Linked DNA regions of Homo sapiens. Changing the gene in region 3 together with the main gene of any one other region gives a genetic interaction. Each region holds a gene or a part of one and is shown on either strand. Other genes may lie near its edges.

Evidence for each region.
Region 1: changes in MED1 (region 3) and DICER1 together harm fitness more than expected from each alone (negative genetic interaction), as found in Homo sapiens cells (one large-scale study listed by BioGRID).
Region 2: changes in MED1 (region 3) and PSMD6 together harm fitness less than expected from each alone (positive genetic interaction), as found in Homo sapiens cells (one large-scale study listed by BioGRID).
Region 4: changes in MED1 (region 3) and MED23 together harm fitness more than expected from each alone (negative genetic interaction), as found in Homo sapiens cells (one large-scale study listed by BioGRID).

What each region holds. Positions count from the first base shown.
Region 1 is NC_000014.9:95,091,530-95,095,029, forward strand, and holds part of DICER1 (endoribonuclease Dicer), read right to left. Parts: intron 2,628-3,500; coding exon 2,359-2,627; intron 1,166-2,358; exon of another isoform or gene 1,040-1,165; intron 1-1,039. UniProt on the Homo sapiens protein: Double-stranded RNA (dsRNA) endoribonuclease playing a central role in short dsRNA-mediated post-transcriptional gene silencing.
Region 2 is NC_000003.12:64,016,995-64,020,494, reverse strand, and holds part of PSMD6 (26S proteasome non-ATPase regulatory subunit 6), read left to right. Parts: intron 1-1,053; coding exon 1,054-1,199; intron 1,200-1,457; coding exon 1,458-1,677; intron 1,678-1,787; coding exon 1,788-1,896; intron 1,897-3,500. UniProt on the Homo sapiens protein: Component of the 26S proteasome, a multiprotein complex involved in the ATP-dependent degradation of ubiquitinated proteins.
Region 3 is NC_000017.11:39,412,471-39,417,754, reverse strand, and holds part of MED1 (mediator of RNA polymerase II transcription subunit 1), read left to right. Parts: intron 1-2,415; coding exon 2,416-2,511; intron 2,512-2,623; coding exon 2,624-2,729; intron 2,730-5,284. UniProt on the Homo sapiens protein: Component of the Mediator complex, a coactivator involved in the regulated transcription of nearly all RNA polymerase II-dependent genes.
Region 4 is NC_000006.12:131,618,243-131,621,742, reverse strand, and holds part of MED23 (mediator of RNA polymerase II transcription subunit 23), read left to right. Parts: intron 1-1,013; coding exon 1,014-1,115; intron 1,116-1,846; coding exon 1,847-1,916; intron 1,917-3,223; coding exon 3,224-3,336; intron 3,337-3,500. UniProt on the Homo sapiens protein: Required for transcriptional activation subsequent to the assembly of the pre-initiation complex. Component of the Mediator complex, a coactivator involved in the regulated transcription of nearly all RNA polymerase II-dependent genes.

The sequences.
Region 1 (3,500 bases), on a different chromosome or scaffold from region 3:
ATATTTTTAAAAAAGTTTTTCAAACTTCTCAAGAAAAAAAGAAAAAATATCCCCACCCCATTTATTATTCTATATACCCAGCAAAGAAAAAAGATTACTTCTAACTTTAAACAACCTTAACAAAGAATTAGAAATAGTCAATAAAAGTATGAAAAAAATTCAAATTCACTCGTAATCAAAGAACTATACTTTAAAACAGTTCTACTCCCTAGCTGCTTGGCAAGCATTCAATAGTACTAATTGGTCTGGTGCTGGCACGGGTGTATGCTGCTTTGGGGAGCAGAAATCGCTGTTGTAGGGAAATAGGGAAATTATATTTGAAAGATTTTTTCCTCCAAGTTCCCTCTTCATTAAGCCACTAGATATGTGTTCACTATAACCGAGTATCTGACATAGCATGTATGCAAATTAATAAAAGAAAATCATGCATCAAAAGCCTTTGAAAAGTTCACAATTCTTTGATGCAGCAATTGCATCTCTAAGAACTTATTTTAAGGAGGTAACTAGATACATAAGCGTATTTATCACCTCCATGGTTATTAAACATCCTAACCAAAAACTACTTAATTACTCGGCCATAAAGAAGCGTTTAAATCAATCAGCCACGTGTTGACTAGCGTGTGGCCCCTGAGCATCACGATACCCATCAATACACGGAAAGTCAGCCACAATATATTATACGTGAAAAGAACAGGTGACAGTATCCTATACATAACAGAATTCCATTTTACATTTTAGATATGTTTATATCTATACACATCCACAATTCCTCCCAAAATGTTAATATTGGTTATTTCCGAGGTAGCATAATCAGGCAAATTTAACTAATTTTCTTCTTATTTACTTGTACTAACTTTTCTAAAATCAACACAAATCATTTGTGAAAAAAATAAAGAGAAAGTGGGAAAATACTAATTTCTAATAGGTTGTTTAGCCATACAAAGTTACATATAATACATTTATACTGCTGATTACTTAAAAAAACAGACTTATTGTTCATATTTATGGTTTTGAGATAGAAAGGAATTTTAAAACTTACCAAGTTTAATTCTCTCTTTTTACAGCTGAGGAAACGGAGGCCCAGAGAGGTAAAGAGACTTTCTTAAGATCAAATAGTAAGTTAGAAATGCCAGACCATGACATTTCCAATCAGTTCTTGTAACTTCTATACATATGTTTATATAAACAAAGGGAAGGAAAAGAATGAACAAAAACTAACAAAACCAATATGCCCCACTGGCATCCAAAGAGAGCTTAAATCTAATTTTAACTAATTCCTCAAATTTCAAGCTTAGCTATTTCTAAAGAATGAGACTAGGTAACACTTGGAAGTCTACGAGCTGGTCCCGCCTTCTCGCCTCACAGCCTGCCACGCTCCAGCTCAGGCTGTTCATCTTGGACAAGAGCACAGAGGCGCGTTAAAGTAAGAGCAGGGCCTACTGACTCCTCCAGTGCACATCTGGGCAGCTGGCAGGGCGTGAACTCGGCTCTGCGGCTAGACTTCAAACCTACTCTTAATTTTTGTCATAGAAAGTCACTACTCCCCAACAAAGGTTTGGTGCAATTAAAAAGGGGAAGGTACAAATTAAAGCAATGACAACTAAAACAGCTACTAGTATTAAGGTTGTATTTCCTGACTCCTTATAAGAAAATCTACAAAAATAAGAAAATCAAAGGAAATGAAATGGGAAGAGGAGGAAATGAGAGTCTCTCTGGGGGACACAGGTATGCAGATGAATGTTAAGAGACTGGAAAGATCTAAGCAATATCCTTTCCTACAAAAATTCGAAATAGCTCACAAACACATTAGAATTAGCTCTGTCACCAGACAGCCTTTGGCTGAACTTACAATAGAAGCCTCCCAAATTCCAATGGTCAAAAATTTAGAAGTTTGTTTTTTAAATTAGATTTTCCCACTTCAAGTAGAAGCAGAATGTATATTTATGATGCTTCCCTGAGATATTAGCAAATATTTCTGATCCATTTAAAAAAGGAAGGATAAGCTACACTGGGCTTTTACTAAAGCTAAACCTGCCTTGGGGTCCGGCAGTGGAGGCCACTTCTTTGGCATGCCTCAATGCTGGAAGCCCTCATGAAGGCGTGGGAAGGGTACCTAACTGAAAGGCCTGGTTCCTTCTCTTCACCTGAATGACCACACAGCCCACAGTGGGGGCAGACAAGTTCAAGAGGCCTACCTGCAAACTGCAGTTCACTCGTGCTCCCACAGAACACAGCACACTGGGTCCCACACCCCTGACCTCCTGCTGTCCCTTTAGACCACTATGCCGTCAGAACTCTGAAACTACAGAGACTCCTAGTTAGACCACTTTTTTCAACATCGTTTTGAACAGCACTAACCTCAGAATCCATTCCTTGCATTTCATTCTTCTCAAGCTGAAACTGCACAAAGTCATCAATGACATGGAAGAGCTCAGGAGAGACAGCTTTGAAGTACTTGTGGTAGTCGTACTTTACAGCCAGCGATGCAAAGATGGTGTTGTTGACCAGGGCAGACCGCAGGTCTGTCAGGACCCCCGGGGAGTGCTGCCGCGGGTCTTCATAAAGGTGCTTGGTTATGAGGTAGTCCAAAATCGCATCTCCCAGGAATTCTAAGCGCTGGTAACAATCTGAGGGGATCCGAAGTGGAACCGTAAGCTTGTGCAGAAGCATTTACACTATCCCCACATAGCAACTGATCCCCAAATCCGAAGAAGATTTGTATTTACAATCATTTTCATACATATATTCTTCAAAAAGGATATCTGACATATCATACTAAAAAGCCTCTGGAAACTAAATTTTAATGACAAATTAAGTACATTTCTTATATAAACTGGGGTCATAAAATCTTCAAGTGGTCAAAAGACTAACGCTTGTTAAGAAGGAAAAACAAAACCTCACAGGTGCTATCATGATCACTGAATGCTTTTCTCTGGCACTGTGCTGTCTGGGCAGGTGCTGGGGCCTTCCTCTCGAGTCTCCCTCACACATCATCACTTAAGTGAAACCAGGGCCGCACACACCTCTCCATGTGGCTACACTGTGCTGCCATCGCTAAAGTCTCATTCACACTCTGGAATCTGTGCATAAGTGATACCATTCCTCACTATTCCTGGGCTATTTTTGTTACACAGGATGACAGGAAAAGAAGACCCTCTTCTTAACTTGAGCTATTATAGAAATGAATTTACCACAAACCAAGAGATTGAGAAAGAAGAGTTGTGAAAGGGAGCAAAGGCAGGTAAACTGGTTGTCAAAATGTGAAAATGATCAATGTTAAATCAACACCTCTATTTTCTCACAGTGATTAAAATAATATATCCAGCTGAGGAAACTGAGGCAGGGACCGATGGTGACTTGTCCCAGAATAAGCAAGGAATTAAGAAGCAGGGACTGCTAGGCGAGAACCCAGGTCTCGGAACTTCCAGCAGAATGTAGTCGAAAGCCACGTATCATTTTTCCTCCATAACGAAAATTAGGCTTTAGTTTCATCAGTCTTT
Region 2 (3,500 bases), on a different chromosome or scaffold from region 3:
ATGAGAAACTTGAAACTTTTGATTCAGGTTTTGAAGAATTTCAACAAGGACATGCTTGAATCAGTATCAGGAAGTTGTAAAATGTTCTAATATTATATTTCCTCTGTATTTATTAAATACTCTTCCAAAACGAACAACTTTTCCCCTCCTATTTACTCTCGTTTTTTATATTTTATTTTATTTAGTATTACTAAATACTTAATGGACTTAGTGGGCTTTTATTATTCACTGTTACCACTGATGAGAGTCTTATTCTTTATGGTGCTAAGTTTGTTGCAAATTTGTTAGCAGAGGCTCCGTCAAGACACTTTGTCCTTTTGACATATCTCATTAGTCTTATTTTCTGATAAAACAAAATGTCACAGGTTCACCTGTTATTTTCACTCTAATAAACGTAGAATTATCTATTTCTCCTAGGATCCCTGGTTCCTTTTAGTGGGGGATAGTATTTAAAAACCAAGATCTTAGTGCTAGGTGTATCCATTGCTGTATTCCCAGTCCCTTATAAATTTGTGAAATATAACTAATAATTACATAAACCAGGCAGACACATACTGAAAACTACCAAGTGTGAACAAATTATTTTATTCATATTCAAAGCAAAGGAAACATTCCACAGTGCTTTGAGAGAAAATTATATATTTACAAATTTAGTCATATTCTAATAGCGACTAAGATACAATTTCCAAAACCCTTCAGATGATGTTATTTTGATGTAGTGTATTGTGATTATGAGAGAAAACATTGAATATATAGAACAGAGAAAAATACTTAACAATTGTGAATATATTTTTCTTAAATTGTTTTCCTGAATCTAAGTATATGCTTGGGCATTTCTTATGTATTTTTTAAACTTTATACAGGTAGAGAAAGTAGAATAATAAACCCTTGTGTACTTATCACCCAGCTTCAACAATTAACAGTTAATGGCCATCTTGTTGTACTTCTACTCCTACCTCTTCCCTCAACCTTTGAAGAAAATCCCAGACAGCTGATAGCTTTTTTTGGAAACTTGTAGCCTTTTCTCACCTATTGCCTTGGCTTTCTTGACAGGAGGGAGCTCTGACAGCCTTTCGCAAGACATATGACAAAACTGTGGCCCTGGGTCACCGATTGGATATTGTATTCTATCTCCTTAGGATTGGCTTATTTTATATGGATAATGATCTCATCACACGAAACACAGAAAAGGCCAAAAGGTACTTTCTAAGGGTGGGATTATATTTTCTCTAAATTATGATGCTACAAATGAGAAGCTGATATAAGAAACTGCCTGTTTTGTTTACAGCTAGTAAGTTTGGTCAAATAATTGATGTACTTATTTAGTAAAATAATTTAAATATCTCCTTTCGGTTCAAGTTGTTAAAAGTTGTTTTCTCATTTCAAATAACAGACAAGTTTTTAAAACGTGGCCTTGTCTGTTTCCAGACTATGATCTTACTGTTTTTATTTCATAGCTTAATAGAAGAAGGAGGAGACTGGGACAGGAGAAACCGCCTAAAAGTGTATCAGGGTCTTTATTGTGTGGCTATTCGTGATTTCAAACAGGCAGCTGAACTCTTCCTTGACACTGTTTCAACATTTACATCCTATGAACTCATGGATTATAAAACATTTGTGACTTATACTGTCTATGTCAGTATGATTGCCTTAGAAAGACCAGATCTCAGGGAAAAGGTAATGACCAAACTTTAATACTCAAATTTAAAGACTTGTTTTTTTTGTTTAAATACACAAATCATTAAAATGTACATTTTTTTTGTATATATGTTTTTTAAAATACCTAGGTCATTAAAGGAGCAGAGATTCTTGAAGTGTTGCACAGTCTTCCAGCAGTTCGGCAGTATCTGTTTTCACTCTATGAATGCCGTTACTCTGTTTTCTTCCAATCATTAGGTAAGGATAGGGTTGATATTTTTGATTATCTGTCTTCATCTTACTCCTGATCCTATGTGCAAATAACCTAAGACGATTTTTCACCTATCTGAGAAATGTAGTGTGTAGGTAGCTGCATGTCTTTGATCAGTATTCCTAATGTGCCCAGTTTTGTTTAGAAGAAGGGTCATCAGATTGTGGCCTGCTGTATGGCCCAGGAGGTAAGAATGATTTTTACATTTTTAAAGTGTTGTTTAAAAAAGGAGGATGTGACGGAGAGCTATGTAGCTTGCAAAGCCTAAAAATACTTACCCTCTGGCCCTTTGCTGAGGGTATTTGCCAGACCCCTGGTTAAGAGTCTTAATGGGGTATAAGGCAAAAGTGAGCAAATGGTTATTAAGTATTGAGCTTCATGGGGACAGAAGTGAGGGAATTCTGAATGTGATTTGGGGTGGAGATTAATTGAACCTTGAATTCAGCAATGGGCTATTCTGTATCAATAGCTAAATAGCTAAATCTCTGTGCTGATTTGCAAATCATTTTCAAGGGCTATGGGTTAAGAAAATAATCTCTTGAACGTAATTGTATTCCTTCAAAGCTAGTTTGTAGTGATCCTGCCTTCACACATTTGCTTGTTTCTCCCTCTTGTCCCCATTCTTTCCTGGCTATTTGGTTTCCTAATAATGACCACAAACTATTAAGATGATAGAAGAATCAGCTTGCATCAAGTTGACCCAGGGGTCTTTCCCAAAACTTAAAATTTGACATTGATATATTTTGTTTATGCTGCAAATTTCAGAAGGTGTTTGGTTAAATAGATAGCTTTGGAGAAAAGTGGGAATGGACGGTTCCAAATGACGATTGTTAATGTTTTTGCAGTGGGTTTTGGCCCAGTGTTTTTGGATGCTTTCTCCATGCATATAAATTGGGCTGCTTTATGAGAATTCATAGTATTTACCTCAGGTAATGTAGGAACAGGTTTCCCGAGCATGATGAGTAACTCACTTGGCCTTATCTTCTCATACATACACACACAGTTATGTTGCTTTTGCATATAAGGTTATATTGTAGAATTGCTCTTTTCCCTTTTTTATGCTTGAGGTCTCCTGGTCATCACTCAACTCAAATATGGAGCCCTTCCCTGCTTCCCTCAGTCAGAACAAATCTTACTTCTCTGCATTCCTGGGATTCTTATTGTATGCTCCCTCCTTCAAAAAAATTGAGGGAGCCCTTCCTTGCTTCCCTCAGTCAGAACAAATCTCTTACTTCTCTGCATTCCTGGGGTTATTGTATGCCCCCTCCTTTAAAAAAACTGAGGTATAAATCACACACCATAAAATTACCTCAAGTGTACAATTCAGTGCTTTTTCATATATTGGCAAGGTTTTGCAAATATTAATAATTCCAGAACATCTTGATCACCCCAAAAGGAAACCGACACCCATTAGCAGTCACTCCCTATTACTCCTTTCCCCCAGCCCCTGGCAACCACTGATCTACTTTATGTCTGTACGAATTTGCCTATTCTGGACATATCATCTAAATGCAGTCATAAAATACGTGGCTTTTTGTGCCTGGCTTCTTTCACTTTATAATGTTCCCACATTCATCCATGTTGTAGCATG
Region 3 (5,284 bases):
TAAAAATCTTAAGTCAGAAGCGCTCTGTTGATAGATATGTGTCAGTGCCAGTGATAGACAATAAGAAATAGGGAAGGCAAATCAGATCTCTTTTATTTTTATTTATTTATTTTTTGTTTGTTTTTTGAGACGGAGTCTCGCTCTGTCGCCCAGGCTGGAGTGCAGTGGCGCAATTTCGGCTCACTGCAAGCTCTGCCTCCTGAGTTCACGTCATTCTCCTGCCTCAGCCTCCCGAGTAGCTGGGACTACAGGCACCCGCCATCACGCCCGGCTAATTTTTTTGTATTTTTAGTAGAAACGGGGTGTCACCGTGTTGGCCAGGATGGTCTCGATCTCCTGACCTCGTGATCTGCCCGCCTGAGCCTCCCAGAGTGCTGGGATTACAGGCATGAGCCACCACGCCTGGCCTTTTTGTTTTTTTTTTTGAGACGGAGTCTTGCTTGGTCACCCAGGCTGGAGTGCAGTGGTGTGATCTTCACTCACTGCAACCTTTGCCTCCTGGGTTCAAGCAATTCTCTTGCTTCAGCCTCCCAAGTAGCTCGGATTACAAGTATCCACCACCATGCCAGGCTAATCTTTGTAGTTTTACCAGAGACGGGGTTTCGTCGAGTTGGCCAGGCTGGTTTTGAACTCGTGACCTCAGTGGTCTGCCTGCCTCGGCCTCCCAAAGTGCTGGGATTACATGCGTGAGCCACCATGCCTGGACTTTTTTTTCTTGATACAGGGTCTTGCTCTGTTATCGAGATTGGAAAGCAGTGGTACAGTCATAGTTCACTTTGGCCTCAAACTCCTGGGCTCAAGTGATACTCTTCCCTCAGGCTCCTCAAGTCGCTGGACTATAGGCATGCACCTCTACATCTAGTCAAATTTTAAAGAAATTTATATTATACTTTTTATTTCAGTGTACATATTTATACAGCAACATTTTTTTTGTAGAGATGGTGTCTTGCCATGTTGTATAGGATAGTCTTGAGCTCCTGGCCTCAGGCATTCCTCCCACCTCAGTGTCCCAAAGTGTTGGGATTACAGGCATGAGCCACTGTGCTGGGCCAGGAGATTCTTCTCATGGAAATAAAAATTGCTTTAGAAATGAGAAATTTTTAGTAGTTGGAGTAATAACATAGAGCATATATGTTCAAAGTTGTGGCACTTCTGTTTCATGTGTTAAAATGCCTTAAGAAGTCTCCAGATAGCTTTAGGGCATTTAAAAATGAGTTTTCATAAGGCAGTTATGGAGCTAATCCTATAGAGAGGCATGCTTTTTACAAAGAAAGTATATGATCCTTGTGTCTAGGCTGCTAGCACATCTGGCATAAGAACATATGATGATGGCTAGATATATGTGGAATAAATACATTATTTTAGATTATAGCCTCTATATCTCTGCTTGCCAAACTATGGGCTGCACATCTAACAGCTGCAAACACTTGATAGAAAGCAGAGTTTATGGCAGTGGTTCTGGATATCTGCTTATCAAGTAGAATGAGACACTCGGCCACTTTTATTTTCAGAATTCACTTTTACATTTTAGGGATTAAGTTTCTTCATCTTGGAAAATTGAAAGTCTAGCTACTTTTGTTCTGGAGAAATTTATAACAAACTGGCAGGTTCCTTGGAATCTGATTCCTTCTGTCATCTGTGGATGACATATAGTAGGTTTTGTATGTGAAAAAAGTGTGCGATTTAGTTTCCAAGGAGGGAGAGAGAATTTCAGTCTGTACATTTAAGGAATGTTATTTGTGTGAAGTCTTTTTTTTTTTTTTTTGAGACAGAGTGTTGCTCTGTTTCCCAGGCTGGGGTTCAGTGACATGATCTCGGCTCACTGCAACCCTTGCCTCCCAGGTTGAAACGATTCTCCTGTCTCAGCCCTCTGAGTAGCTAGGATTACAGGTGTGCGCCACCACACCCGGCTAATTTTTTTTTTTTTTTTTTTTTTTTTTGAGATGGAGTCTTACTCTTGCCCAGGCTGGAGTGCAGTGGCACGATCTCAGCTCACTACAACCTCCGCCTCCTAGGTTCAAGTGATTCTCCTGCCTCAGCCTCCCGAGTAGCTGGGATTACAGGCATGTGCCACCACGCCCGACTAATTTTGTATTTTGTATTTTTAGTAGAGATGGGGTTTGTCCATGTTGGTCAGGCTTGTCTCGAACTCCTGACCTCAGGTGATGAGCCCACCTCAGCCTCTCAAAGTTCTGGGATTACAGGCCTGAGCCACTGCATCCGGCCTCTTTTTTTTATTTTTTAGTGGAGTTGGGGTTTCGCCATGTTGGCCAGGCTGGTCTTGAACTCCTGACCTCAGGTAATCCACCTGCCTTGGCCTCCCAAACTGCTGGGATTACAGGCGTGAGCCACCGTGCCCAGCCTGTGTGAAGTCTTATATTTGGTTGTTTTATGATCTTTCTCTTTGCCTTTTAGATTCTCCTGGGCTTCTCCAATTTGAAGTGTGTCCTCTCTCAGAGTCTCGTTTCAGCGTATCTTTTCAGCACCCTGTGAATGACTCCCTGGTGTGTGGTGAGTTGTGTGGGTGGCTAACACCTCTCATGGAGCGGTTTGGTCCCTATGTCTTTTTTGGAAAAGTCAGAAGCTAAATCTAAAACAATTTCCTATGTATTTTGTCTTTCAGTGGTAATGGATGTGCAGGACTCAACACATGTGAGCTGTAAACTCTACAAAGGGCTGTCGGATGCACTGATCTGCACAGATGACTTCATTGCCAAAGTTGTTCAAAGGTAGCCTTGGCCCTTTTTCATCTGAGTCCCATTTAGAGATGTATAAAGAATGTTGTTGAGTAGGGCGCGGTGGCTCACGCCTGTAATCCCCACACTTTGGGAGGCCGAGGCAGGCGGATCACGAGGTCAGAAGATTGAGACCATTCTGGCTAACATGGTGAACCCCCATCTCTACTAAAAATACAAAAATTAGTCAGGCGCGATGGCGGGCACATGTAGTACCAGCTACTCGGGAGGCTGATGCAGAAGAATAACTTGAACCTGGGAGGTGGAGGTTGCAGTGAGCCAAGATTGCGCCATTGCACTCCAGCCTGACGACAGAGCAAGACTCCGTGTTTTTGTTTTTGTTGTAAAAAAAAAAAAAAAAAAAAAAAAAAAAAAAAAAAAAAAAGGCCGGGCCTGGTGGCTCACGCCTGTAATCCCAGCACTTTGGGAGGTGAAGGCGGGTGGATCACGAGGTCAGGAGATTGAGACCATCCTGGCTAACACAGTGAAACCCCGTCTCTATTAAAAATACAAAAAATTAGCCCGGCATGGTGGCGGGCGCCTGTAGTCCCAGCTACTAGGGAGGCTGAGGCAGGAGAATGGCATGATCCCGGGAGGTGGAGCTTGCAGTGAGCCGAGATCATGCCACTGTACTCCAGCCTGGGCAACAGAGTGAGACTCTGTCTCAAAAAAAAAAAAAAATGTTGTTTTCAGAATTAGCATGAATTTCAAATAAAGGAGCAATTTAGTTATTGCTTTGATTTCACCCTTCTCTGCTTTCGGATTCAAAGTAATCTAAGCTTTGTTTTTTTTTTTTGAGATGGAGTCTTGCTCTGATGCCCAGATTGTACAGTGGTACAATCTTGGCTCACTGCAACCTCTGCCTCCCGGGTTCAAGTGATTCTCCTGCCTCACCCTCCTGAGTAGCTAGGATTACAGGCATGTGCTACCACACCTGACTCATTTTTGTATTTTTAGTAGAGACGGGGTTTCACCATGTTGGCCAGGCTGGTCTCGAACTCCTGACCTCAGGTGATCTGCCTGCCTTGGCCTCCCAAAGTTCTGGGATTACAGGCGTGAGCCACTGCACACAGCCAGCTTTGTTTTTTTTTTTTTTTTTTTTTTTTTAATGATATTACTATGAGAGTAATGGGAAGTAAAGTAGGTAACTTCAGGCCTGGAATTATGGTACTTTAAGGCAGGAGAAAGCCATAATAAAATACAGATATTTTTCTTACCTATCCTGTGTGCCAATTCTTCATAGATGTGACATTTTTATCTTTTTATTCTTTTATTTTTTTATTTTGAGACAAGAGTCTCACTCTGTTACCCAGGCTGGAGTGCAGTGGTGTGATGACGGCTCACTGAAGTGTTGACCTCCGAGGTTCAGGTTATCCTTCCACCTAGACCTCCTGAGTAGCTGGTACTGCAGGTGTGAGCCACTGTGTCTGCCTGAGCAGATTTCACAACTTAAATGTTAGGCTGGGCGTGGCAGTGCATGCCTGTAATCCAGCACTTTGGGAGGCCAAGGCGGGCAGATTACTTGAGGTCAGGAGTTCGAGACCAGCCTGGCCAACATGTTGAGATGTCATCTCTATAAAAATACGAAAATTAACCGAGCATGGTGGTATCCGTCTGTCATTCTAGCTACTTGAGAGGCTGAGGCAGGAGAATCACTTGAACCTGGGAATCGGAGGTTGCGGTGAGCCAAGATTGCGCCACTGTTCTTTAGCCTGGGTGATAGAGTGAGATTCTGTCTCAAAACAAACAAACTAACTAAATAAATAAAAATATAAAAATTAGCCAGGTGTGGTGGCAGGTGCCTATAATCCCAGCTACTCAGGAGGCTGAGGCGGGAGAATTGCTTGAACCTGGGAGGCGGAGGCTGCAGTGAGCCGAGATTGTGCCACTCCACTCCAGCCTGGTAGACAGAGCAAGATGCCATCTCAAAACAAACAAAAAGCCAACTTAATTGTTACGTGATAGTTAAGCCAGTATGCATCCCAGAACCATTAATATGTAATTTTTTGAGATTTTTCTACAGCTGGGTCTGGCAGCCTATTTTTGTAAATAAATTTTATTGGAACACTGCTGTTCATTTACATGTCTGTGGCAGATTTCTAGTTAATATTGCAGAGTAGGTGAACAGGAAACAAGACCTACAAAGCCTAACGGATTACTATATGGCCTTATAAGAAAAATTTGCGGCCGGGTGCGGGGGTCACCCCTGTAATCCTAGCACTTTGGGAGGCTGAGGCGGGTAAATCACGAGGTCAGGAGTTCAAGACCAGCCTGGCCAAGATGGTGAAACCCCATCTCTACTAAAAATACAAAAATTAGCTGGGCGTGGTGGCGGGCTTCTGTAATCCCAGCTACTTGGGAGGCTGAGGCAGAGAATTGCTTGAACCTGGGAGGCGGAAGTTGCGGTAAGCCAAGATCATGCCACTGCACTCCAGCCTGGATAACAGAGCGAGACTCTGTCTCAAAGAAAAAAAAAAAAAAAAAAAGAAAAATTTGCTGGCTGGGTGTGGTGGCTCACGCCTATAATCCCAGCACTTTGGGAGGTGGGT
Region 4 (3,500 bases), on a different chromosome or scaffold from region 3:
AGATGCTAGTTCCCTTATATTTCAAAAGGACATTTTAAATTTTAATTCATGGTTTTAAATTATGAAAACAATGAAATAGAAATTAAAATAGCTTAAACATTACAAGACCTTAGCATATGGACCACTTAAAAGATCTTTGTACTTTGTAACTAGTATCGCAAGAATTGTTACGTTGGTCTGTTGCACTCCTGTTTAAGTGTGCCAATATTTAAAGCATGTGCAAGGTTATTTACTAACCATGAACAATCCATTCCATTGTTTATTAATCTTTATTTTTAGATATTTTTTACATATAAATGTATTCTTTGCTACAGTTGAAACCCAATAAATCCATTAAATAATATCTCTATATTTTATTTTAATTGACAAGTAGCAATTGTCTGTGTGTGTGTATATATATTATATATACTTATTTTTTTATAATGATAACACTTAAAATCTACTCTCTTAGCAATTTTGAAGTATACACTATATCGTTATTAACCATAGTCACCATAATGTCCAGTAGGTCTCTTGAACTTATTCCTCTTGTCAAAGTGAAATTTTGTCCTTTGACCAACATCTCTCCAGAAAGTAACATCTCTACTTTTTAATGTCTTTTTTGTTGTCATTGTCATTGTAGTGTTTAAAACGCTCACATGGGCCAGATGCAGTGGCGCATGTCTGTAATCCCAGTGCTTTGGGAGGCCAAGGCGGGAGGCTCATTTAAGCCCATTGTTAGAGACCAGCCAGGACATCCTGGGGAGACCCTGTCTTTACAAAAAATTAAAAAGTTAGCCGGGCCTGCTGGCATACACCTATAGTCCCAGCTACTCTGGAGGCTGAGGTGGGAACACCACTGGAGCCCCAGAGGTTGAAGATGTAGTGAGCCATGATTACGCCACTGCACTCCAAGCCTGGGCAACAGAGCAAGACCCTGTCTCAAAAAAAAAAAAAAATAATGATAATAAATAAAATAAAGGGCTTATATGTGGGACTAGTCAAGAATGATGTGGCCTTTTTGTTTTTCTTAGGTTATAGCATATATCTTGGAAAGAAATGCCTGCTTATTACCAGCCTATTTTGCAGTCACTGAGATCAGGAAACTGTATCCTGAAGGCAAACTTCCACACTGGGTAAATTTTATATTTCCTGAATTTTTAATAAAAATTTTCGGCTGGGCTTCGTGGCTCACAGCACTTTGGGAGGCAAAGGTGGGAAGATGATTTGAGGACAAGAGTTCAAGACCCAACCTGGGTAACATAACAAGACTCTGTCTCTGCAAAACATTAAAAAACACACGCACACATATTAGCCAGGCATAGTAGCACATGCCTATAGCCCCAGCTACTCAGGAGCTGAGGTGGGAGGATTACTTGAAACCAGGAGTTTGAGGCTGCAGTGAGCTGTGATCACACCACTGTACTCTAGCTTCGGCAAAAGGACGAGACCCTGTCTCACACACAAAAAAGGGTATTTTATAAAAAACAGTTATATTAATCTTATTTTTGTGTGCTTATTTTTTTAATGATGACTTTTATCCTTAGATAATATGTATATTTTTAATCATGATGTATTTCTTTCATTTCCATTTCCATTGAGAATTTATATGCCATGTAATAAAATATGATCAGCTTCATCAAATAGCTAAGGATATGGTGGTGTGACTTGGTTTAATTAAGGGACAGATGAACTGGCGAGTGATTTTTTAGAAGGAAGCAAAAGGGAGCTAACCTTTAAACAGTTATCATGTGCAATCTTTACATATATTATCTCATTTTATATAAATGTTCATATATTTCAGGGGCAGTCTCAATTTTCCTTTTGTACGTATTTATTTGACTTCCCTCTTTCTTTCTCTCTTTAGTTACTTGGAAACCTAGTATCAGACTTTGTGGATACCTTCAGGCCCACAGCAAGGATAAACTCCATTTGTGGTAGGATTATAATTTTAAATATGCCAAATAGTACCTGATTTTTAGTAATCTAATTATTGAACAAAGCTGAGGGATGTTCTCTTAATATGTGCCTTGGTGGCTTGTCATTTTGGTGACTCTCTAAGAGCTTAATATAATGCCTTTCCCTTGTTTTCACTTACTCTGTGTGCCAAGTACAGGGAGGAAAAAGAAACTCTCTGGAATGGGTTTAAGCTTCATTTAAAACCATTCTAGAAGTGGGTTTCTTGGTGATTAGAAAGACATTTTAATACAGCTAGTAAAGCACCATGGAATTTCTAGGCAGCTGGAAGTCTGAACAGACCTGTCCCTCTGTGGCTACAGAACGTGAAAGTGTCAGGCTCACTCAGCCCATTCTAATTCCCACTTTTGCTTTTCCTTTCGCATTTTCCCATGTTTTGTTAGAGTCTCTGAACTTTCTTTTAAAAATAACCATGTGATTTGGCAATTTTTGCAGTGCCCACATATCCTCTTTAATTATTTCTAGAAATCATGGTGACCTCAACTGTGTGGAAATATAGACCATTGTTTATTCAGTGATCAAATATTGAGTACTTCCTATAAGCCAGGTGCTATTCTAGATACTGAAAATACAAATACAATCTAAATAGACACTAGACAGATAATTATCAGGTTTCTAGCTTTTGTAACTGAGTGGATATTGATATCATGTAGTGAATTATGGAAGCAAAGTAGGTTGGAGAAGGATGATGAATTTGAGACATGTTAAGCTTGAGGTGCTTGTAGGACATCCAAGTGACGATATTTGTTAGGCAGTTGGATGTATGAGCTGATAGTCATATGTGACATCTAAGGCCTCTAGGAATATCGTGCATAAAGTTTAATCATGTTGACACTGGACTAGTGGTCTTAAACTTTTTCCTGTAAAGGGCCATGTAGTAAATATTTTAAGCTTCGTAGGCTACAGAATCTGTTGCAGCTACTCAGCTCTGCCATTGGACTGCAAAAGCAGTGGTGTTCCAATAAAACTTTACAAAAACAGGTGCCAGGCTGGATTTGGCCCATGGATTATAGTTGGCTGATCTCTGCCCTAGACATTTAGACAAAATGCGATATTTTCAACTTTGGAAAGCCTGTGCAAATTGATCTTCAACTATCTGAACTAAAAATAAAATTCCCAACCTTCAGTCTCATTGAAACATTTTTATAAGCCATTTTTAAACCAAACCAATGCCTATTTCAGCATATATGTTCATTAAATATTTGTGAAGTGAATGAAGTACTGCTGTGTTCACATTTACTTAAAAACATTTTTGTAATACATACAGGTCGCTGTAGTCTTCTGCCAGTTGTAAATAATTCGGGTGCCATTTGTAATTCATGGAAACTGGATCCTGCTACTCTTCGTTTTCCTTTGAAAGGCCTTTTGCCATATGATAAGGTATGTTGCTAAATATAATGGCACTTTTAGTCCATCTGACAGTCTTCAACCTAGATTATAAGATATGTGATGCTAAATTGTTGCTTCATAATCTGAAGAAGTAAATATTTAATGAAAGATAGTTTATAGTTTATCATGTTATTCTAGTATCTAAATATACCCTG